Regions from separate parts of the Homo sapiens genome. Here all the other regions are linked to region 1. The links come from fine-mapping of genetic effects on gene expression. A gene starts in region 1. Each other region holds a variant in brackets. All regions are shown on one strand. Distances are from middle to middle. Region 1 holds the start of GGCT (gamma-glutamylcyclotransferase). Region 2 overlaps GARS1 (glycyl-tRNA synthetase 1). Region 3 overlaps GARS1-DT (GARS1 divergent transcript).

What was found. PIP is the estimated chance that this variant, and not a neighbour inherited with it, causes the effect. A credible set is the group of variants that fine-mapping cannot tell apart.
Region 2: its variant is the best candidate, but not a certain one, in a credible set for the expression of GGCT in lung (GTEx, PIP 0.79).
Region 3: its variant is the best candidate, but not a certain one, in a credible set for the expression of GGCT in unexposed skin (GTEx, PIP 0.54).

The regions. Positions count from the first base shown.
Region 1 is chr7:30,500,342-30,508,883 of GRCh38, reverse strand. GGCT (gamma-glutamylcyclotransferase) reads left to right here and starts at 4,055. Exons shown (of 4, transcript NM_024051.4): 1 at 4,055-4,315; 2 at 8,203-8,348. The coding sequence starts at 4,175. RefSeq lists enhancers at 3,580-3,669, 3,089-3,967, 4,110-4,319, 3,968-4,847 and a silencer at 4,470-4,649.
Region 2 is chr7:30,608,536-30,617,077 of GRCh38, reverse strand. GARS1 (glycyl-tRNA synthetase 1) reads right to left here. Exons shown (of 17, transcript NM_002047.4): 7 at 7,348-7,493; 8 at 4,833-4,982; 9 at 1,020-1,182. Among named protein-coding and RNA genes, the nearest start is that of GARS1, 18 kb to the right of the region's middle. The variant C/T (reference allele first, on the strand shown) is at 4,756.
Region 3 is chr7:30,545,108-30,553,649 of GRCh38, reverse strand. It overlaps GARS1-DT (GARS1 divergent transcript), which reads left to right. Exons shown (of 7, transcript NR_038889.1): 6 at 1,471-1,550; 7 at 2,869-5,293. Among named protein-coding and RNA genes, the nearest start is that of GARS1-DT, 28 kb to the left of the region's middle. RefSeq lists an enhancer at 4,460-4,961. The variant C/GAC (reference allele first, on the strand shown) is at 4,749.

The DNA of each region.
Region 1 (8,542 bases):
ACATCCATGTACATCACTACATTTAACATTTAACACTTTCTGTATTTTTTTGTTCTGAATTATCTTAAAATATAGGTATCAAATATTTCAACCCTATATATGCCAGTATACATGTCTAAAAATAGAGACATTTTTCTACCGAAGCACAATACCATTATCACACCTAATAACAATTGCCTAATATCACCTAATGCCCCAGTGAAAACTCAAATTTCTTCAGTTGTCCCCGAAATATCTTTTATATCTGGCTTATTAAACCAGAATCAACAGAGGACAAGCCATACATTTGGTTATTGTTTGTTTGTTTGTTTGTTTGTTTTTGAGATGGAGTCTTGCTCCGTTGCCAAGCTGGAGTGCAAAGGCGTGATCTTGGCTCACTGCAAATTCTGCCTCCCAGGTTCAAACAATTCTTCTGCCTCAGCCTCCCGAGTAGCTGGGACTAGAGGCATGCCACCATGCCCAGCTAATTTTTGTATTTTTAGTAGAGATGGGGTTTCACCATGTTGGCCAGGAAGGTCTCCATCTCTTGACATTGTGATCTGCCTGCCTCAGCCTCCCAAATTGCTGGGATTACAGGTGTGAACCACCACACCCAGCCACATTTTTAAAATTTCTTTTAATCTAGAGCAGCCATCCCTCAGTGCTGCTTTTTTTCTTTTTAATGACACTGACTTATTGAAGACACTGGGCCATGTGTTCAGTAGGGTGTTCCACCATTTATTCTGGGTTTTTCTGGTTGTTTTCTCCTGTTGTAATTTTATTCTTCTATCCTTGCAGTTCCTGAGACAGGAAGATAGATTTAAAGGCTTGATGATGTTGAGGTTAAAATTTTTTGGAAAGAATACTTCATAGATGATGCTGGAGCTTCATATTGCATCAAATTGGGAGATATTTAATGTCAGGCTGGGCCACTTTTATGGTGATAAGATTGTTCTGGGTTAAGGTAGGAGGGGCAAGATTTCCCTGTGTTGTAAAAATGTAACCAGCAGTAGGCCAGGCGCGGTGGCTCACGCCTGTAATCCCAGTGACAGGTGAAGCCAGCTGGGCTTCTGGGTCGGGTGGGCACTTGGAGAACTTTTCTGTCTAGCTAAAGGATTGTAAACGCACCAATCAGCACTCTGTGCCTAGCTAAAGGTTTGTAAACGCACCAATCAGCACTCTGTGTATAGCTAAAGGTTTTTAAGTGCACCAATCGGGGCTCTGTGTCTAGCTAACCAGGTAGGAGGCTTAGAGAACTTTTCTGTCTAGTTAAAGGATTGTAAATGCACCAATCAGTGCTCTGTGTCTAGCTAAAGGTTTGTAAACACACCAATCAGGGCTCTGTCAAAACAGACCAATCAGCTCTCTGTGAAATGGACCAATCAGCAGGATGTGGGTGGGGCCAAATAAGGGAATAAAAGCAGGCCACCAGAGCCAGCATGGGCAACCCACTTGGGTCCCCCTCCAGGCTGTGGAAGCTTTGTTCTTTTACTCTTTGCACTAAATCTTGCTGCTGCTCACTCTTTGGGTCCGCACCGCCTTTATGAGCTGTAACACTCACCACGAAGGTCTGCAGCTTCACTCCTGAAGCCAGCGAGACCATGAACCCACAGGAAGGAACAACTCCAGACGGGAGGAACGAACAATTCTGGACGGGAGGAACGAACAACTCCGGATGGGAGGAATGAACAACTCTGGACGTGCCACCTTTATGAACTGTAACACTCACCATGAAGGTCTGCAGCTTCACTCTTGAAGTCAGCAAGACCACAAACCCACCAGAAGGAATGAACAACTCCAGATGCACCGCCTTTAAGAGCCGTAACACTCAACCGCGAGGGTCTGCAGCTTCACTCCTGAAGCCAGCGAGACCATGAACCCACAGGAAGGAACAACTCCAGACAGGAGGAACGAACAATTCTGGACGGGAGGAACAAACAACTCCGGATGGGAGGAATGAACAACTCTGGACGAGCCACCTTTATGAACTGTAACACTCACCATGAAGGTCTGCAGCTTCATTCCTGAAGTCAGCAAGACCACAAACCCACCAGAAGGAATGAACAACTCCAGATGCACCGCCTTTAAGAGCCGTAACACTCACCGCGAGGGTCTGCAGCTTCACTCCTGAAGTCAGTGAGACCACAAACCCACCAGAAGGAAGAAACTCCAGACACATCTGAACATCTGAAGGAACGAACTCCGGACACACCATCATTAAGAACTGTAACACTCACCGCGAGGGTCAGCGGCTTCATTCTTTAAGTCAGTGAAACCAAGAACCCACAATTCCGGACACACCAGCACTTTGGGAGGCCGAGGCGGGCAGATCACGAGGTCAGGAGATCAAGACCATCCTGGCCAACATGGTGAAACCCCGTCTCTACTAAAAATACAAAAAATTAGCCAGGCATGGTGGCGGGTGCCTGTAGTCCCAGCTACTCAGGAAGCTGAGGCAGGAGAATGGTGTGAACCCGGGAGGCGGAGCTTGCAGTGAGCCGACATCACACCACTGCACTTCAGCCTGGGCGACGGAGTGAGACTCTGTCTCAAAAAAATAAAAATAAAATAAATAAATTGTAACCAGCAGTAATCCTCAGGGAGTAATTTGGCATCAAGTGAATATCCTGTTCCCTATCACCTTTTCACCAAATGATATCACTGATGATCCTGGCATGAATCAATTATAAAATTCCATTATTCATTTAGGATGACTTAGTTGGCATACTTTTGTAAAGAGAACTGTTTCCTCATCAACTGATGCTCGTCATCAGCTGTATTTCAGTTACCCCGAAATACAGCTGCTACTAGAAAGGCGGAATACCTGTTTGTTTTCTTAAATTATCACTTTGCAGAGTAAAGTTGGTGTAATAGTCACCACCAATAGTGTGGCAAATGAAGTTATAGTTTTTTTTTTAATTTGGATTACTCTTTGGGGGGAATGGCTTTTTTATGTTTAAAGTTTCCAATCATTTTTCAGTTTGCAGTCATTGTTATTTTTGATTCTCAAATTGTTCTAATTTTGGCCAGTGGGCAACTTCAGGCTGGTTCCCATGTCCTTTTAGAAGGACCTCGTTCGTCTTGAGAGGCGTCCTGAGCTTCTGACACAAGATGTTCCAAGTTGTCCTCATTCACTCCTAGCTCCTGACCTGGCATCAGTCATTTCTCGAAGGATCACTTGGTACCTTTTAGTGGGGGGTGGTATTTAGAGATTAATAGCTGGGTGTCAAGGATAGACAATGTTCCTATGCCCTTATGTTCATTCAAAAGTTAACAATATAGGTTTTAAAAAATACACCCAGGATGTGTGTGTGTGTGGGAGGGGGTAACCAAAACACAATATAGGGGTTTCTACTGTGACCCTAACTTATATTATGATCCCGATTTTTAAAAAGAGGAAACGGAGACCAGAGGTGCCCAAAGTTACTTGGCTAGTAAATGGCAGCGTCGGGATTTAAGCCCAGGCATGTAACTTCCATGTAACAGGGAAGGGAGTCCCAAGCATTCAGAGGGGCCGCTCCAGCAGGCGACGGGTCCGTGGAAAGGGGTCAGATTGATGACCAGTGCTGGGGGTGCCGGAACCAGCAGAAAGGGTGAACGGACCCGTCCTGCCCGACTCCTCTAGGCCAGGAAGGCAGGACCCGGCGAGCTGCCGGATGAGGGAGCCGTTGATGGAGTCGCCTGGGCCGCTGTTTCGCCTCAGATCTGACCAGAACTTCCTAAGGCACAGAAAGTACCAAAGAACCACACACAAGCACCCCAGAGCGAAGAAACCAGTCACGCGCCACGACCTTCAGCCAGTGTCCATGGGACCCGACCCGCCTGTGAGGAGTGCCTGTCCACCCCTCAATCAGAGGAAGCCTTGAGCAAGGAGGGGCGGGACATCAGTAGGTCGTGTCCAATGAGGAGCCAGCGCCGGATTGCTTCAGGACAGACTATTTCTGAGTCTCGGCGGAAGGCGGAGGGAAGGCCGTGGGGATGGCCAATCAAAGGGGGCGACTCAGGTCGGTGGGGACCGGCAGCCAATCAGGAGAGCGCTCGCTCCTGACTCGACCGGCCCACGCTTCCCGCCAGTCCCCTAACCCTGAGGCTGCCGCGCGGCGGTCACTGCGCCGGGGTAGTGGGCCCCAGTGTTGCGCTCTCTGGCCGTTCCTTACACTCTGCTTCAGGCTCCAGTGCAGGGGCGTAGTGGGATATGGCCAACTCGGGCTGCAAGGACGTCACGGGTCCAGATGAGGAGAGTTTTCTGTACTTTGCCTACGGCAGCAACCTGCTGACAGAGAGGATCCACCTCCGAAACCCCTCGGCGGCGTTCTTCTGTGTGGCCCGCCTGCAGGTGAGTGCCCCCTCCCGCGCTACCCACGCCGGGGCCGGGATGCCCAGAAGGCGCTTCCTCGGGGGCACACGTGGCCGATCGGGCCAGGAATGCAGTTCTTCTTGATGAGGGTACTAGGACGCGGCTTCCGCCTCCTGGGCGGGTCCACCTCCTCCGCTGCGCCCACTGCCCGGCCCTGCCCGGGCCACGGTGCCCTCTCGGGCTGCCTGGAGCTTTCCCCCTCCTGGCCTTTGCACCGGCTGCTCGGTCTGCACCGATTTGGCCTCTCGTCCACTAACTTAACAGATTGCATACAGTTGGTACTTCTGGAGAGTCTTCTCTGACCCGTGTCTGGGAATTGGTTGCCTTCTGTTCTGTACATAACCTTTGTTACAGCACTTCTCACCTGGCATTGTGAAAATCCGTTTACCTGCCTTTCGCTCCTCATCTAAGAGGTCCTGAAAGCTGGGACCATGTCTTATTTGTAATAATGCTGTGTTCAGTTAGGTCAAGGGGCTGCATGAACTATAACCAGTGTTGGTAAATCATTGCTCTTCAGCCCAGTCCATTCATTCATTTAGTACATATTCTTCCGGCACTTAACACTAAGGGTATAAACATGATTGAGTAAAGTGGCTGTTTCGAGGAACTCTCAGTCTGTAGGACAGAGGTGCAATAGATTATGTTCAAAACCTTTTTGACAGCGTCGAATGAGACAAACATGATCTCTGCTAACATCGTGAGTTCTTAGTTGCAAGCAACAGAAACTGGCTGATTTAAGCAAAAAAAAAAAAAAAAAAAAAAAAAAGAATGTGTTGAAAGGCTATTGGAGAGCTCACAGAATGACCAGGAAGGCAGGAGTACAAAGCTGACAAAACGGACAAGCATAAAGGGAGGCACAGCAACTGTAATACAGTGGGCATCACACAACAGAACCAGCCCACGGAGCCTCTTCCACGCCACTGCTGAACTTGGTAAACGTGGATGCTGTATTGTCCACCACCCCCTGCCCTGGACACTGCCTGCCTCTGTACATCCCTGCAGTTCCTGAAACCCAAATGTGTCAGCCTCTCTGGAGTCCCTGCTGTCTTGGGCACTAGCTTCTAATTGAAAGCCCCAGAATGTCCCGATTGGCTAAGTTTTGGCCACGTACCCATGCCGTGATTTTAAGCAAAACTGAGAGAACCAGCTTCTGGCCTTTGAAGCCTCAAAAATGGGAGTCAGGCTCTGATACTCCCTATTCCCAAACTCGTAAGGTAGGGAATTTCCCAACTGTAGGAAGGGAGTCCAAATGCTTACAGTCAGGGCAAGGGGAAGAGATATTAAACAAGGGATTATTCAGTTACAGGTATATGGTCCATCTTAAAAAGGAGGCATGCAAAGTGCAATGGGGCGTATGACCAGGGTACCTGACCTAACCAGGATGCTCAGGAAAGCCCTGCCTGAAAATGTGACTTTTAAGTTGAGACCTGAATGATTGTAGAGGTGGGGAGCACACAAAACAGGGAACAGCATCTTCTGCAAAGGACCTGAAGAAAGAGGAAGCTGGATCTTTCAGTCAGTGTGGCTGGAGTTTAGTAAGGGGAATGTGGCATGAAGACTGGAGATATGTGGAAGGGCCACATCTTCCAGGACCACAGAAGCCAAATAAGACACACTGCAGAACTAAAGCACATGAAAGATAGATTTCTATCTCCAAAAGCCCATTCTGGTCACATGGAAAATAGATTTGAAGGAGGGAAGAGTGAATGTGGAGAGTTCAAGAAGTTTTTGCAGCAATTTATGCCAAAGATAATGAATGGCATCTTGAACTAGGGTGGTGGCAGGGCAGGGTGGATGGATTTGAGAACTAATTTGGAGATAACATTGTTAAAGCATAGTGATTGAGTGTGAAGAGAATACCAAAGATGACTCAGGTTTTTGGCACCAGGTAGATGCAGGTGATGTTTGCAGAGAAAAGAGGAAAATCCGGCTTGGGAGGAGAAAATTTTAAGTTCAGTTTGAACATTTTGAATTTGAAATGCTTGCTAAACAGTCAAGTGAACAGAATAATATTAGCAAACATTTATTAAGTACTTACTGTGTGCTAGGCCCTGTTCTAAGCACTTCTGAAGCTCAGAAGAGAGATCTGGTCTGGGTTTAAAGATGATCAGAATATTTGAAGCCATTGGAGGGGATGAGAATGTCTTGAGCAAATTGCCAAATGAATAGAGAAAATGGCCTAGACCATGGGTGTCCAACCTTTTGGCTTCCTTGGGCCACACTGGAAGAAGAAAAATTGTCTTGGGCCACACATAAAATACACTAAAACTAATGATAGCTGATGAGCTAAAACAAAAACAAAAACAAAAAAAAGGCCCATGCATAATTTTTGTGATGTCCGCCACCACAGGTAAGCAAAAAAGTTCTTGCATCCAAAGGGTTGGACACCCATGGCCTAGACTGAGCCTTGAGCAACTCCAACATTTAAAAATCAGGTAATGGAGGAGGAGTTGGCAAAGGGGATTGAGATCAAGGAACAGCCTGAAAATCAGGAAAGAGGCAGATCAGGAGAAGGTGGTTACCTATGTTCCGCTGAGAAGTGGAACAAGATGAGGAATGAAAATAGTTTATTGGATTTAGCAATACACAACCAGTTAGTGTGAATTGTAACTTTTATCACATCTCCTGGTGTCCTGCCAGGGACATGTGGTCCTAGAAGAACATCTCTTATGCTGAATAAAGGTACTGGTCACTCCAACCACCCCAATTCCTGAGATGTCTGACAAGTTTTTCTAGAAAATATAAGTGACAGGGATAAAATATAAACCTGAAAAGGATCCTAGAATTATCGTTTAGTTCAACTTTTTAAATTTATCTATAAGGAAACTAAGCTCTGGAAAGATGGAAAGAAATCTTCCTAGACCAAATAAGCCACATAAGGATTCTGTATTTTATTTGTTTTGTTTTTGTTTATTTTTTAGTTTGTTTTTTCATGTAAGGATTTTTAATCTTCCCCAGGACTCTATCCCCTGATTGCCCACCTCTGTGAGGAAAGAAGTTAAACTAGAAACCTAATTTCATTACTTATTAGTTCCAAGACCTTAGGAAGATTGCTTAATCTTTCTAACCCACAGTGTTTATTGCTGTAAAATGGGTATAAGAAAGTTGTTAGCAAAATAAAACGGAATGGTCCATAATTATATATTAGCCAATAGCACTGTGTACAAAATGATCCACCCGCCACGGCCTCCCAGAATGTTGGGATTACAGACGTAAGCCCCTGCACCTGGCCCCCAAAACACACTCTTTTATCCATGTCTTTGGGCATGCTCGTCCCCTGCTTAAATGGCCTTCCCATTTGCAGTTAGTGTTAGGTGCTCTTATGATTATTGTAGATAAATTAGTATAATTCGTGAGTATTAGTGTTCATAAGTACACAAATCATTCATCCTCAAATGCCAGGTCCCTCAGGGCAAATTTGGTGATATATGTTGGTAGGATACTCTACAGACATAAAAGGAGAGAGAATATTATAACCCACATGTAGCCATCACCCAGCTTGTCTCTAAGTAAAAATTTATGTGTATGTAAGAAGACTGGGAAGTAATTTGCAAAAATGAAAACAATTGTGTTCAGGCATTGGGGTTATGGGATTTTTTTTCCTTAAACTTTTTGTTTTTGTTAAGATGTCTATACATATTCAGTGTATGTTTCATTTTTAAAGAAAAATATTTAAAAAACGTAATCCTTGGGATCTGGGTCCTGTCTGTTTAACTTTATATTTTCCACAGCTTCTTATGCATAGAAGGAACTCAGTTTATTGACTGTTTTAATTGCATGGAGTTCAAGGTAAATCCTTTTTATTTTGATGAGGGAAATTTGGATTCAAGTGGATATTGATCATATCACTTTGATTTCCTTTGTAGGATTTTAAGCTTGACTTTGGCAATTCCCAAGGCAAAACAAGTCAAACTTGGCATGGAGGGATAGCCACCATTTTTCAGAGTCCTGGCGATGAAGTGTGGGGAGTAGTATGGAAAATGAACAAAAGCAATTTAAATTCTCTGGATGAGTAGGTGGCTTCTAATTATAAGTTAAACAGTAATTAATTCAGAAAGCAGATTGTATGTGAGGATGTGTACCTGTGTGTTAGTTTTTCAAAACCACATACTACAGACATATTCATTATACTTTTAGAGTCAACATAAAAGGCATGATAATGTGAGTTTGCTAAAAGGTCTAGAAAGGCTATATTTTCTGATAAAG
Region 2 (8,542 bases), 110 kb before region 1:
GAAAACACACATTAATACTCTTCAAAGCCAAGATATCGGTTTCCATTGACTCACTCTACTGAAAAATATTTGACACCCAACACAAACTATTTTATCTTGCTTTCAAAACAATTTCAAATACTCAGAATGAGATCTTGGTTATTTTTTAATGGGTTAATGTCAAGATGATGATAATGGAGTTATTCAAAATCTGTCCAACATACTTACTGGGTCAGCAAAAATTCAGCCCAGTACCTCATACCTCTAAATCTACAGTACTAAAAACAATATTCATAATTGACACTAAAGAATGGCAAAGACATTCCCCTCTGAATTAACCAAAGTAATGACACGTTGAGGGGATTTTAATGTATCCTTACCCACTGAAATTTGTGAACCCCGTAGAGTACACGTAATCATTTTAGTGTTTGCAAGGACCTTAGAAAACATCTAGCCCCATCTCCATACACTGCAGAGGTCTTCTCTGCAAAGTGGCTGACAAGCTATCGTCCAACCTTGCCAGGAGTATTTTCAGGGCCAGGAAGCTCACTGCTCCCTGAGGCAACTCATTCCACTAGTGGACAGCAGCTACTGTTGGCAAGTTTTCACGCACTCACTTCTCCAGGCAAATATTTACAAAGTGCTTATATGCAAGGCCTTATTCCACTGCTATGGGTAATACAGAAGAGTCTGAAACCCAGATGGCTTGCTTTCTGTGGGTCCAATGCTGTCTCCCCCAAAGTAGTACATACTGTTGAGTCAGATTGGTGAGGCACAATGCAAACCAAGATCTATTTTCCAAGTGCTCTGCTAAACATTTTTTTTCATGCTAGCCCCAAGGCCCACAAATTGAGATGTTCAGGTGATTTTTCTCTTACTATAATAATACTGTATAACAAATTCTGTACAAAACCAAGTACTGTAAAAAAGCAAATGACTGCCAAAATAAAATATCTTGTCACCCAGAACACATAGAATTTGCTAATTGCTGCAAACCCTGAACAGGCACAATCTAAGTTAAGTTACCTCCAGAATCCTACCTGTTCAACAGCATCTCCCAGGCGCATTTTCCGAGCGGACTGTCCGCTGACCTGGGCTTTTGCTGAATACAAATAAAGGTGAAGGTCTGCCACATTCTGGAACTTGGGGTGGTCTTTCTCACTGGGATCTACAAAGTGCTCAATTTCTGCCATTGTGAATTCTCTGAAAGCAAAAACGTAAGCGATAAACCTGCATATTTAACTACAAAAAACAAACAAACAAAAAACAAGGCCTCTATTTTCAACTGCATTCTAGTGATAAAGGCTCCATACTATAGTGGTCTTTTTCACTAAACAGAAAGTTGGTTTCCTAAGGGAATGGCCAAAAAAATTTTGAATTAAATTTGTCTGGGTAGTTGTTATTTTTATTTTTTTGATGTATTATATTTGTACAAATTTATGGGGTACATGTGAAGGTTATTTTTAAACACATTAATGAAAATTTTATTACTCACTATTTAAAATAAACATGATCTAACTTCTCTGAAGTATTAATTCCTTCCCTCCAGCTACATCCAAAAAGATTATTACTTTTAACTGAAAATAACTTGTTAAAGGCAGATTAATATAGTTTTTTAAATTAGGAAAACATACGCAAAAATCACATGAAAAATAAGAAATAAGATATTGAATAGTGACATGCAGATAAAATGGTTTTCCTTAAAGCATTAGCAAGTCTTTATAAGTATACACTAAATGAAGTTTCTTCATCCCATTTCAAAGAATGGGAAATTAAAAGCGAAATGAAATGGTTCTTTAGCTTTCATAGCAGTTTGATTTCTTCTTTTTTACTGCTACAAAAAAGTAAATGACTGATAATGGCATCATACAGTTGGTTTCTTTGGAGCAAGAGCTTCTTAAATAAAGTGTTATTCAAGGCAAAGGATATAAGGCATGAATTGAACAAGCTAACATCAAGCTAATTACCTAACGATGAAGTGCACATAGTAATGGTTTCCCAAAGAGATTTCTCTGAATGCAATTTAGTAGCTATTTGCGGGAGAAGTGTTTCAAGTTAATTTTATGAGTCAAAATCAATCTCTCTTCTTTCAAGAAAAATCACATTTTCTGGTGTGCTTCCATGATTATCTCAGATGTTTTACGAGTAATGTAAAATTGCTTAAATGGATCCTAAAAATACATGAAATACACTGCAAAAGAGGTTTAATTTTTTTTTTTTTTTTTTTGAGACGGAGTCTCGCTCGCCCAGGCTGGAGTGCAGTGGCGCGATCTCGGCTCACTGCAAGCTCCGCCTCCCGGGTTCACGCCATTCTCCTGCCTCAGCCTCCCGAGTAGCTGGGACTACAGGCGCCCGCCACCACGCCCGGCTAATTTTTTGTATTTTTAGTAGAGGCAGGGTTTCACTGTGTTAGCCAGGATGGCCTCAATCTCCTGAACCTCATGATCCGCCCGCCTCTGCCTCCCAAAGTGCTGGGATTACAGGCGTGAGCCACTGCGCCCGGCCAAGAGGTTTAATTTTTAAATTTTATTTTTTAATAGTGTCTCTTATTTGGTCCTGCTGCACCTATGTTTTAGTTGTCTTTCAACAACTAGGAAACATCTTCTGTGCCCATATAAATGTGAGAGAAACAAACATGGTGTTTGTCCTCACATAGCTTATAATTGGGCTGACAGCAACTGAACATCTACAATGTGGGACAGGATAAATTACGGGCCCTGCCTAGAATCTCCAAAATGCTGCTGCCAAAGTCTTTCCATCTGTTCTGTCACAAATCTCAGCACTGTGTCTATAGTTAATGATTCACTGTATACCTGAAATCCGCTCAAAGAGTAGATGTTAAGTAGATCTCACCACTAAAAAAAAAAAAAGTAACTATGTGAGGTGATAATTATGTTAATTAGCTTGACTGTGGTAATCATTTCACAATGTATAAGCATATCAAAGCACCACACTGTGTGACTTGAAATCATACAAATCATACAAAATTTACTCATCAATAATCTCAGCTCATAGATAGGAGGCAGGAATCATCAGAATTCTGAGTAACTGTATCTCAGTTCAGCAACTGTACCTGAAACTGTAGAGAACTAAAATACACACAGGCTAGGAAGACAGATAAGTCAATCAAAATAAAATAAAATTTTAGAAAAATCTTCATATGAACAATCTAATACCTCTAAACTAACAAAAGGACAAAAGGAAATACAGCTATGCAAAGATTAATCACCAGAGAACTCTGCCATCAAGAAGAATCAGAACACTAAATAAACCAATCCTAGTCCTACCATGGAACAAAAGCCAGGAGGATGCTGACTCATGAAAAAACTAGTGGACTTCTGGTCAGGAACTTGCAAGGGACATAACAAAACTAGCCAGAATTCAGACATGACACTTTGAAGTGAAAATGACCAAAGAATCCACTGTTGAGAAGCCCCAGAGCCTTTCTACCAGTTAACCCCTGGGATCACTCCCAAGTTCCAAGCTGGTTTCCCTACTCACCACTTTTTTACTGCACAGGCCCCAGACACTGCCTTACTTCTCAGTCCTTCTCAATAATCTTCCCATAGCTACTCTGTGTAAACCCTCTTCGTAACACTGGCTTCAGACAAGGTCAGCCTTACGCAGCTTCCTCAGTTTGGGAAGGCATACTTGCTAGATATTGAAACGGTGAAAAACAAAAAAACAAAAACACTCAGACACTGGGAAATAAAACAAAGACTCAAATCTGACAAATTTGTCATTGCCATCATACCTGGCTAAAGTTTCTGATGACCTCCTCTTTTTACATGAAAGCTCAGAGGGGTCATTCCCCCAACTTTCTCTAAGTTGGGCACATTCTTTCCTCTGTAAGTCCCTCCTTCCTAAACCGTAAACCTGTAGGGCCTAGAGATACAGTTTGCGCAGAACATAGGCATCTTCTCCCAGATGGCATCATGGGAACTAACAAGATGAGGCAGGTGCTGTGGATGCTTTGATCCAGAGTCAGTGACTGGGCTATGTTATGACCCAAGTCTGTAATTACAGTGAGTAAGAAGAGAAGACAGGAAATGGGTGGGCGCTGGGGCTGGGAAAACACTTTGGGGCCTTAGAAAGTTATGTTTAGCTACACCTCGTATTTTATATGGAATGTATTACTCTAAGAGATGATACCAGGAATAACGTATAGAAATCACAAAAAACTTAAGTCATAAACAGCTGAGTCATAATAAATTTCTAAAGAAATATAGAACTCACCAGCCCCAATATGCCTTCCCACACATCCCTGGATAGATCAGACAAAAGTAGGCTATTTGAATAGAGGCCAAGTGAGTGATGAGGGTAAGCTTGCTTGCTGGCCTTTCTGTCATATAGGCCCCCCAAATACCTGGACGGAGGTTGTTTCCAGAACTCCAGTTGGTTACTGATACATCCTCACCCCAACTTCAGCAATGTTGTCTGCCCTAGATATCTAGAACAATCCTCCTGCCACAACTTTCACCCTACCCCCACCCGACCCCACCCTTTTATACACATCACCATTGCCAGTATTGCCTTGGTTTAGACAATCAAGATATTACCATCCTCAAAATATACGATGAACAAGGAAAAAGGTAATTTTGGAGCAGGTGAGACTCTTAAGACAGTCTCCACCCTCCTTCCTTTCCCTTCAAGTTCACTTTTGTCACTCAAAACTGCCTGTCATCCTGGAGATTACATTTAGAGATTCCAAATGTAAAACATGATTTTTGGAGAAAACAAAAATAAATTCATAATCAGGATTATGAAGCAGAATTG[C/T]TTCAAAACAGCAAGCTTTCATTTTCAATGCAATGCCAAGGTCATTCACTAATTTGTAAGAGTAACCTGAGCAGTACCTGACTCTGATCAGTCCAGATCGAGGGGAGATCTCATTTCTAAAAGAATTTCCAATCTGGGCAGCAGCAAAAGGCAACTTTCCTTGGTTGAACTCCAAAAGTCGTTTGAAATTCAAGAAAATCCCCTGTGCAGTTTCTGGTCTCAAGTACCTATAAATTTAAGTAAGTCAGTCTGTTACAAAGAAAGAAATTATGTTTTCCAACAATCCTGAAATTCTAGATACAAATCCTAAAAGTCCTAAATATACCATTTTCACAACAAAGTTGAACAGGCCCTAAAATGAAGTTTTAGAAATATTTTCCTCGGTAGCAAACATTTTCATAGCACGTATTAGAAAATGTATTAAGTAATTAGTGTGGCAGTACTACTTTGGCAATGCCATTTCATTTAATTACACCAGTGAGTCAAAACCCCACTTCTCAAAAAGCAGAAATAAAAATAAATTTAAAAACACCACCTCAGGCCGCGCGCAGTCGCTCACACCTGTAATCCCAGCACTTTGGGAGGCTGAAGTGGGCGGATCACCTGAGGTTGGGAGTTCGAGATCAGCCTGACCAACATGGAGAAACCCTGTCTCTACTAAAAACACAAAATTAGCCAGGCGTGGTGGCACATGCCTGTAATCCCAGCTACTCAGGAGGCTGAGGCAAGAGAATCGCTTGAACCTGGGAGGCAGAGGTTGCAGTGAGCCGAGATCACGCCATTGCACTCCAGCCTGGGCAACAAGAGCGAAACTCCATCTCAAAACAAACAAACAAAAAACACCACCTCTCCCATAGTGCCCCTTAAACCCCTGATGTCTTCTAAGTCATCATGTACATGGAGGCAGATGACAATCTTAGGTCCTTTGGAAAATAATACCCATGCCTATGTTTAGCCCTGTTAACCCACATATTAAAACTTAACTGAGGGGCTAAAAAGAAATCAGTATAGGCTCACATTTAACATCAGCACTCACTTATCACTATCACCTCACCAAGCCAGGTAATTTTCAATGTTTTTCAAATCATTTTATTATCTGCAGTATTTTATATTTTCAACCAGAGGCTTCCGCATTTCTCTGTATTTTAAAGATATAGTCAAGCAAATACACTACTATAACCACTGCCCTCTCAATTTCCTAGAAGATATTCTGTGCAAAACATCCACTAAGGAAACGCTCCCAATGGCCTACTTCAGAATAAGTATTTTACTAAAATAACTTTAAAACCAAGGGCTAAAAACCCTAAAATTGTACCCTCTTCTTACTTAACAGACCAACTCTTTTGATTTTTATGGCCCTTTCCAGATTTCATCCAAATGTAAGTAAAGTTTATACATATATTTACAGTTAGTATGTATAAAATCATGTATTACCTATTTTATACTTCCCATTTTCTAAATAATGGCACAAATTTCTCACATTTAATAGTGACAGAATATTATCCCAAACTAATCCACTTTACCATAATTTGTTTAACCACTCTCAAATTACTGAATAGGTTATTTCTACTTTCAATTTATATACTTCTTCTAAGTATAATTTCCTTTCCTTCTGAATTATTTCCTTAGATCAATTCCCAGAAATGGAATGTCTGGGTCACAGGTTATGTCTCATTTTATGACTCTGTACATATGGCCAAAATGAAAGGCTTGCCACTGGCCTCTTTCCATGAAATATTCCAAATCAACCTGATGTCTCATTAGAATAATTAACTGCAACACATTTTGTCACAATTAATTTTTCTTATTCTTCAGTCCCTACTCTGGGAAACACGATCTATCTAGCTCATGTAGGAAAAACTTACTCTCTTACCCTATCATAGAAAAATATCTAAAGCTATGAAATGGAACACTGGCTAAGTCTGTTAAACAGTGGACAAGGAATCAGAAGATAAAGATTCCAATTCTGAATCATACTGTAAACTAACCAGATATTCTTTATCCATGAAAACCACATCTTTCAAATCAACAGGCTATACCTATGCTGTCCAATATGGTAGGACACCAGGCAGATGTCTATTTAAATTTCAATTAAGATGAAATAAATTTTAAAATTCAGTGCCTCAGAAGAACTGGACCCATTATGAGTGCTCAAGAGCCAAATGTGGCTGGTAGCTAATCATACTGGACAACACACATTACAGAACATTTCCATCACTGCAGAAAGTTCCGTTGGACAGTAGCATGCTAAACTAAATGGTTTCTAAAATATCCTTCAGCAATAAGTTCAACGGCTTTTAAAACCATTCTTCAACTGTCCCTTCTACCCTATGCAGCTATAACTAGAAGATATAGTGATCAGAGACTTTATTTTATGCCAAAAAAATACATATATGCCAAAAAAGAAATTATATTCAGAAAGAATTTTTTAAAAGATTTATTTCTGCCATTATTTCTCCATAATACATTCATCTGTACTTCTGTATATCACTTTTTAAAAATTTTTCCTTCATAACATTGATATTTACCTTTTAATATAAGCAATTTTAAAAACTTCATTACATAAACAGGTAAACAATAAGTGATACATACCCAGGCATGTTTCCTCCAGGCCCAATGAAAGTCTTGAACATTAAGTTAAAAGACACTGGAGGGGATAGATCATTTCCAGTAATGGGAGATTTTACATTATAGTTCACAAAAAGATCCGCAAGTTCTTGCTGTCCATAGTTATCAAGCTAAAAGACATATAAAGAAATTAGTGTAAAAGACAGAGAAAACAAGGCATAAGATATAAAGTATTATATATAACCCTAGCCATCCACTGCTACAATCACACAAAATTCAGGAACATCACAATTAACCTAACCTTCAGGACACCCACATTAAAACCATAACCAATTTATTCACTTTCCATTTATCAAGAGAGAAAAAAATATCCTTCTGGGACCTAAAACTCATATAGTCACTGTTTCAAAGTGAAAGATAAAGCAAAATACCTCTTATTCAATTATAATAGTTATTGGTTGGCAAGAATCTGAAATTACCTAAATAAGTTTTCAAAGCTGAATTTTACTACTCTGAACATATTTAAGGTGCATTTCTGCATTTCTCTGTATTTTAAAGATCCAGTCAAGCAAATATACTATTAATAGCCACCACCCTCTCCTCAATGGAGTAATTAAATGTGCATTGAACTTTCCTTTCCCATTAGATATTAAGCGCCTAGAAGACAGAAGCTGTATCTTATTCACCTCAGCATTTTCCAGTGTATTGCACATTCTATACATTGATCATCAGTGCCAAATCCTGTAAAATGATGTATGCCCTCCAATTTAAGAATTTCAAGTGACTATGACAAACCATCTAATAGTAAGCAGTATTTAAAACTTAAAAGTTTCCTAACAGAAACAAAATAATTCAGTAAATCAATTAATGGCCATAATAACTGAAGCTTCGAGTTCAGAAAGACCTTGGCGTATCTCCCAACTCTACACCACTTATGGGTTGTGTGACTAAAGATTAAGTTCTTACCTAACCTCTCTAAGAACAGGGGAGAACAGCTTCTACCTTGCTATGCAGGAATATGATGAAGATTAAACAAAACATGTAAAGTATTTAGCACAGGCAGGACCTGGTACATAATAACTACTCAATAAAGAGCAATTATATTTGCTACCCTCATAAATCCAATGGTATTTCCACTCCATAAAAAGGCAACCCACTCACACTAACAACATGTTCCAGATTTGAATGTGCAATTTAAAATATTAAGCCTTCTAGACTC
Region 3 (8,542 bases), 45 kb before region 1:
TAGTTAGCATTGGTTTTCCTTGTCCCCAAGTCCCACAGGGGTGATGTGGAGGGGCCCAGGTGGTTACTGTACACGCAGTGTGTTTGTACTGCAGCTAAGGAACACTGAGCTTGGGAACATACAATTTAATAGTAAGTGGTGAGCAAGTCTGCCCTTTGTCTGGGGCAGGGGGATATTGCTTTGTCAAGGCTGTCTACTGCAAACACAACCCTGAGAAATATCCCAAGCAAGGAACAGTCAGGACCTTGCATTCTTGTCATCCCCAGCAAGAGCATGCAGAGACAATCAGAGCCTGTGGCAAATTGCCTGTCACAAAAATCCACCACAAGGCCTGACAGATCCTTGGCCAAATTCACATTTTCCCATGAGTATGCTACCTCATCAGCTGCTCTGATTAGTCTGACCAACAGAGGGACCAAATCTGTTTAATTTGATTCCTATCACATTTAAAATTAAGGCTGCTATTGACAGGACTTCAAGCAATACAGTGCAGCAAGTCTGCCATATTGATCTCACCCATGTCCCCAGGGTCCCGGGCTCAACCAACTGTCTAAAAGTTCTGGGGGCAAGGGAGACCAGTCATTCCTATTTCAGATAGCTAGGATAAAATCTAATATCAGTCTAGTATTCATTATGACCCACTCATGGGAGTTTAGATTCACTGATATCATTGCCAGTGACTACAGGAGGCAATGTAGGGAGCAAAGACCCTCATCCCTGATGGAAGGACATTCATGGCCTCTCCCTTTCAAAGAGACAATCCAAAGGGGAGCAGGTCACTCTAGTTTGGAATTTGTTGTTAAATTTGATTTGAATCATCATTGCATTGGTTTGGTTAGGTAAGATGGTTAAATTTTACGTGTCAACTTGGCTGGGTCATGAGACTAAGATATTTGGTCAAACATTACTCTGGATGTTTCTGTGAGGGTGTTTTTGGATGAGATTAACATTTAAATCATTGGACTTTGAGTAAAGCAGATGACTCTACCTAATGTGGATGGTCCTCAACCAATCAATTGGAGGCCTAAATAGAACAAAAGACTGACCTCTTCCAGGCAAGAAGGAATTCTGCCAGCACATGAACTTTGCACTTGAACTGAAACAGTGGCTCTCCTGGGTCTCCAGCCTGCCAGCCCCCACCCTGCAGATTTTGGACTTGCCAGCCTCCATAATCATGGCAGCCCATTCCTTAAAATAAATCTCACTCTCTCTCTTCCTCTAGAATATACATACATATATATATATATATACACACACACACGCACACACATATAATATTATATATATTTTATATGCACACACAAAATAACAGATAGATAGATATCGTATTAGTTCTGTTTTTTTGGAGAACCCTGACTAGTCCTAGTTGCCTTTCTTTTCTTTTTCCACTTTTCTTCTGAGCTCATGTTCCACCTTCTGATATCTTAACATCATTTCCCTGAGCTCACTTTATCCTTTTCCTTCTTAAAGGCGACCATTTCATTAAGTTTTTAAGTGCCTGGTAATTGCTTGGTTATGACCGGTGTCTGCTCCATGGCAGCCTCTTCCTGGTGAGTATTCCACATCTGCCATTGGTTTTTCCTATCCCTTTCCTACATTTGCAGAGATCCTGCATGTCTTCCTTTTTGATGACTCATCTTTGAACAAGTGGAATTTTTTTTTTTTTTTTTTTTTGAGACGGAGTCTCACTCTGTCGCCAGGCAGGAGTGCAGTGGCGCAATCTTGGTGCACTGCAACCTCCGCCTCCCGGGTTCCAGTGATTCTCCTGCCTCAGCCTCCCAAGTAGCTGGGACTACAGGTGCCCGCCACCATGCCCAGCTAATTTTTTGTATTTTTAGTAGAGACGGGGTTTCACCATGTTGGCCAGGATGGTCTTGATCTCTTGACCTCGTGATCCACCTGCCTCAGCCTCCCAAAGTGCTGGGATTACAGGCGTGAGCCACCACACCCGGCCAAACAAGTGGAATTTTTCCTGGACCAGCTCTTTGCTGGTCATGTGGGAGGAGTTGGGGCTGTGTTCCAAGTCAGCTGGAATTTTTCTTATAACCCAGGATTTTACATGTGAGCTTGATCAGCCTTTACTTCTCAGCTTAAGCAGGTCTGGGCATGTTTGGCAACCTGGCCTGCATAATGAAGATTTCCATAATTTGGTGTTCATCTATTTATTCAGTTTTTGCCCGAATGATGAAGGAGGAAGTTTACATCTTGCTCCCTGGGGACAGGCAGAGACAGTGTGTGCACTTCCATCCTACAGGGACCAGATCTGAACAGTCTGGAGAGAGGAGCTGTGGTGGCAGCAGACAGATCTCTGCTTCAGGGGCCAGGTGTCTAGGTGAGACGCCACAGCGCGGCAGAGAGAACAGAGGCTTCTCTGCATGCCTGCCAGGGAATTGGCACCATGTCAACAGAAATCTTAGGTTACAGGAACAGGAACCAGCCCTGACTGACGTGTGCAAGCCCGGAGCTTTCCTTTCTCCTTGCACTTCCCACATGTTCCCCACATAACCAGCAACCACAGAGCCACCCCCTGCCACCCAACAACTCCCTCCTGAGCTAGAAACTTGTAAGACTCAGCTAGGAGTCTGAATGGTTGGATATCTAAAGCAAAGAATAATCTAGTTTGTAACATGGGACCAAAGGAAGAACTGAATATCCACAATCTGTGTAAAAAGAGGCCACTTTGGAGATTTCTATGCCTCTCAGGGGCTCTATCTCAGGATGGCTCAGCTGTAATTATCTTTGGATTCCCATACAGATCCAACTTCCCTGGAAAGAGAAAGTCTCATGTTTGTTAATAATATGAGGAAAGAATTAAAATATATCAGCTGCTATGGGCTAATGTCATTTATTTTGACTTTTCTTTTGTAGAAGAAATGCTGAGGCAGTGTCACGCTGGTGTCTGTCCTCCTTACAGAATGCCTGAACAGTTCCATTGACTCAAAGTGAAGATCAAAAGAACCAAATGACAGCAATAGCCAAGTGTAATCATCAGTAACCCTGTGTTCTATCCACAGGTAAAAAACAATCATCCTCTTCATTATGGGTTTCAATTTTAAATGTAATACATTTTTAGAAATGCCTATTTCCTTTTATAATCTCTTTATATAATCTAGGTTATTCTGGCTCTTAGGTCTTCATTTAGCTACTGAAAAGATTTGATCTCAAATCAATGATCTAACCACCCATGACCATCTCCCACCTCTCTCCCCGTACACCCCCCAGCATGAATTCTGGGAACTCAGGTAAAATGCTTTCTGGAAACCTGCCTGTATTAGTCTGTTGTCAAGCTGCTAATAAACACATACCCGAAACTGGGTAGTTTATAAAGGAAAGAGGTTTCCTTTATAGTTCCACATGGCTTGGGAGGCCTCACAATCATGGTGGAAGGCGAATGAGAAGCAAAGTCACATCTTGCATGGCAGCAGGGAAGAGAGAGTTTGTGTAGGGGAACACCCCTTTAAAAAACCATCAGATCTTGTGACACTCATTCACTGTCACGAGAACAGCACGGGAAAGACCCGCCCCCATGATTCAATTACCTCCCATGACACAAGGGAAGTATAGGAGCTACAATTCACAATGAGATCTGGGTGGGGACACAGACAAACCATGTCACCGCCTAAAACCAACTCAATAGTCTAAGGAATTTGACTGGGGAGAATCTGGAGAGGATTTAATTAATTTGGCAAAAGGATTAGCAATTGAATCTAAGTGAGAAAAGAGAATTCTTGGAGGAAAAAAAGATGTTTAGTTACACTGAGAAATTAAAACCTGAAGTAATTGCCTTTGAGATTTTTTTCAGGAAATGAGTATTGATTGCCTACTGTGTGTCAAATTATGTGTTTCATGTCAAAGACTCCAAAGTAGATAAGATATAGGCCCAGCCTTGGGGAGCTCATTGAGTCACAGAGAAAGTTTGAATGTTTCAGAGGAATCATCAAGAACAGGGGATCAGCAATCTATTATATTTTAATTGCGTCTTTTCATGATTATAAAAGCAATGCATGCGTGCTGAAGAGAATTTGGAAAAACAAAGAAGAAATTAAAAATCGTCTCTGATCCTGCCACCAGAAATAACCACTGTTAGCAATTGTATCACTTCTGTAGGTCTACATGGTTATCATAATAAGCTCTAGTATTGATTACATGCATCTCATGTACCAGAGATTATGCTAGACTCTCATTTAATCTGTACATTAGCCCTATGAAGTAGGGACCATCATTCTCCTCATTTTACAGATGAGGAAACAGAGGCTTGGAGAGGTTACTCTGCCTAAAGTCTCATAGCTAGCGAGTGGCAGAGATTGGACTCACCCAAGCTTTGTCTTATTCTCAAGCTCTCAACCAACCCGGTGGTGAGAAGAGCCAGCAGCAAAGCCTGTCATCTTTGTCTTCTTTTTTTTTCTAACCTCAAATCAGGGAGAAAATGCCCTTTGTCATTAGAAGGGCAAGGCAATTCTGAAGACAGCCCAGTTGGCTTGTCTCCGATTTGGCTTTCAGGGGCCTGTCTGATACCTATGGAGAGACGAGGGCTGAACAAGCTGTACTCTCAAAACAAAACAAAGCAAAACAAAACTTTAGTCTCTTTAGGGACTCTCTGATAGTAATGCAGAGGGAGAAAGGCTTTCTTTGTCTCACTGGGAGGAAGGTTCCCTACGGAAATTGAAGGCAGTGCCTGTTGACATAGCGCTGCCACCTGGTGGAAATAATGGTGTAGGACATCATGTCCAGCACCACTAGCGCTGAGA[C/GAC]ACTCCCTGGGAAGAGAAATGTTTGGAGAGAAATTTGCAAGAAGTTGGAAGTCTCGCAGTAGCAGGTAGGAACAAGAATTATAACTGCTACTGTGACCCCCTAAGGCTCCTCACATCCTCTTAAGGCTTGGAGAAACTCACACTATGTATATTTTCCTGTATTTTTGAAAAATGTTTTCCTTTATGCTTTGTTGTAATGAAATTACCTCTGATGGTCACATACCTTAAATATTTAGTATATATATGAATACTAAATGTCCATTTTCAGGAGTTAGTTTACCTGCATCTAAAATCAGGAATAGGTCACAGAGTAACTGAGCAAAAAGTGCTGTTAGGTTTGTGCATTTCACCCTTTGCCTGGGATGAGAGGACCTCAATCATCTTGGTACTAATGACAGGAAAAGTGCCCTCCTATCCATGTGTATCGGCTACGTGACTCAAGTCTCCTTATTTCCTTTTCTAGCATAACAAGGGGTTGTTACTGTTGTTTTACATCTGTGTTAATGAGATAAATAAGTTTAAAATAAAAAGATGTGTACCAGGCAGATGGAAAGGTGAACCATGAAGTTTTTGCCATCTGGATCTTCTGTCAAAGACAGATGAAAAATTCTGCCCAGGGTGTATGCTGAAGAACACAAATACTTAATCTGGAGTTCAAGTATGGGCTTCAAGGAGTCTATACACCCCTGAAATTTTGGGACAGATGGAATGTGTCTGAAGTATATTCATTTTTCTGGGAGGAAGCTCCAGAGTTTTCATCAGCTTCTGAAAATAGTGCATGCCCAAAGAGAAGGTTCAAAATCATTGCCTGGGGCCTTTCAGAGGGTCCTTCTAATCATGGTGTTCCCTAATGTTAATCAACACCACAAGCACTATTATTATTAAAAGTAATTGGGTCAGGTGTGGTGGCTCATGCCTATAATCCCAGTACTTTGGAAAGCTGAGGGAGGTGGATTGGTTGAGTCCAGGAATTCCAGACCAGCCTGGCCAACATTAGCTGGGTGTGAAGGCACACATCTATAGTCCCAGCTACTCAGGAGGCTGAGGTGGGAGTATCTTCTGAGCCCAGGAGGTGGAGGCTGCAGTGAGTTGAGATCATGCCTCTGGCACTCCAGCCTGGGCAACAGAGCAGGACCCTGTTTCAATAATGATAATAGTAATCATCATCATCATCATCATGATGTCGCAAGCTGATTTGAAATAACTTATTTTTATATAAGCACTTGGATTTACATAGGCTTGACTGAGGAATTACACTAGTGATTAAGGGTTCAACCTGGACACTGGTAAGGTAGACCAAGCCACATGAACCCCTGCCATTGGCAGGCCAGCAGCCAGTCCATCCTTCCTCCTTTGGACCCGTGGACTGTACTCAAAATCAGTAGAGGCTCTGTCAGAAGGTCCTGGGAAACAAGACCTGTCCATGGTTTCTTTACCTGAAAGTAAAAATGTTTGATGATATAATTTTTAAGTTCCTTTGAATCATTAAAGCTCACTGATTTAGGAGAATGGCTTTTACAATTTTTCAGCTTTAAACTCCCTCCTAAGTTTCTGAAGATCCTCTTGGGCCACTTCATGGATCTGATTTAAATCTAAAGTCCTAGGGGTTTCAAGGAGCACAGTTTGGAATCTACCATCCCGGGACATTCATTATATTAGTCTGTTTTCATGCTGCTGATAAAGACATACCCAAGACTGGGCAATTTACAAAAGAAAGAGATTTAATTGGACTTACAGTCCCACGTGTTGTTCCCTTTTTGCTGACATTACCCTGTCTGAAGTCCTCTACCCAGGGAAGCCACAAGGCACTGTTCTGGGTGGAGGTGGGTGTGGTGTCCACTGCGCCATACCCACCAGGACCTGAGGTGGAAGCTGGCCAGACACTGGTGCTCTGCTGGCATTTGGGCTGCAGATTTGGGGCAGGTAATGGGCATGGAGAGAACAGAGCCAAAAGCAGCACAGGAAGATGTGGCCATTCTGGTCTGAGAGAGGCATGGGAAATGACGGTTGGTGGCAGAAGCGTTTTCTAAACTTAGGCTCGTGAACAGCTTTCAAGTCCAGCTCTTGTCCAGATGTTGTCTTATACCACATGCTCATGGCAACCAGACCACCTCTGATTTTTTTGCAACCAGGTGCCTAACACAGCACATCAGTCAGGATCTGGCAGGAAGCAGGTGACATTCACACAAGGTAACTGACGAAAGCTGCTTTTGTTTTTTGCTTTTGGAGGAAGATGTTGAGAACACCTCCATTTATTAAATTAGCTATAGTAAGTGTAGTTTACATATTAAGGAGAGATTAATGATAGGATTTATACAGATGTGACAGGTTTAGGGAATGACCCCACTCAGCTGTCCCCCTTTCTATGAGACCATGCCTCTGCCTTCTCCCAACTCCATTCCAGCCCAGATGGCCTTCCTTTGTCCTTCTGTGGGGTGGAGATGGGAATGGTTCTCAGTTCCAGCTAGAATCAATTCAACTGGGGAAGCTTCAAAATACGTCAGTGCCTGGGCCCCGCCCCCAGCATTTCTAATTTAATGGGGCTCAGGTGGGGCCTGGGCAGTGGTGCTGTGTAAAAGCTCTCAGTTGATTCCAACACGCCCAGACCAATTCATTGACACTCTCTGGGGTAGAGGGCCTGGGCACTGGTACTTTTTCAAATTTCTCCAGTGCAGCCAGAACCAAGAAGCTCTGTTTTCTTTCCAAATCTATTGTCTGTTGGGGTGATCAGACCCAACACCAGGTCATGGGGGTGACAAAGTCTGGTGGAGTCAAAGGATTGAGAAATAGGTTTGAAAGAGAAAGGTGGGACACCAGGGGGCCATCGCCATTGTGGAGGCTGTGAAGGCCCTGAGCTCTGGGAGCCCATGCTATTTATTGGCAGTCCAACAAAGAAACATGTGGTGAGAATGTGGAGGTCAAAAGGACATGTTGCATTAAGCACATGATTTACAGCTGTGATGGTTTAGCGTTTATATGGAACATGTTTTGCTACTTGAGATAATGGGAGTAGGAGCCTAGGAAGGCTAGAAGCAAGGAGCCAGCAAGGCTAGACACATTCCAGAGGACATTATGTCAGATATGCAAGCCCTGCCTCAGTTTCTCCCAACACTCAGCTTTTTCCTAACATGCCCCCCTTCTCTTTTTTGTAAAAGAGAAAGTATTATTACTAGCTATCATTAGCAAGGTGATTGCAGGCTGTGCAGCCCTTAATTGCCGGTTGGTGATCCAGCTTCATTTTTCTTAGCCCTTATTCAAACCGGAGTCACTCTGGTTTGAGTGCTTCCCACATATCTCCGCTTTCCCTTTTACAGGACCCTTAATCCTAGGGGTTGCAGAAGGATGAAGGTCCATCTTCTGTAACTTCTTCATGCTGAATAGGGGTGATGATACTCCTGCCTAACTATTAGGGTTTCTGTATTCAGGGTAGAGAGGAGCTCAGCCAGAAAGCATTGGTCTGTTAAGCATCAAGACTCCGGTCGGTCCTCGTTCCATCTTCTCATTCAGATTCAGCTGGCTCATGGCTCGTACTGGGGAACCCAGTCCATGCTTAGGATCCATGGGTCCCTCCAGTCTCCCATTCCATGGTCGTACACGTCTTGAGGGCATCCACATGGTTCGTTCATCTCCTGCAAAAACACAAGCATACCCTCACCCCCACATTAGTAAATCTACTGAAACAGAAGCAAAAACTGTTGTGGCTGTAGCTGGGAGGCCACTGATATTGAGAAACAGGCCCTTCCAACAGAAGGCACCAGGAAAGCAAATCAAGGCTTAAAAGCAATCCTTAAACC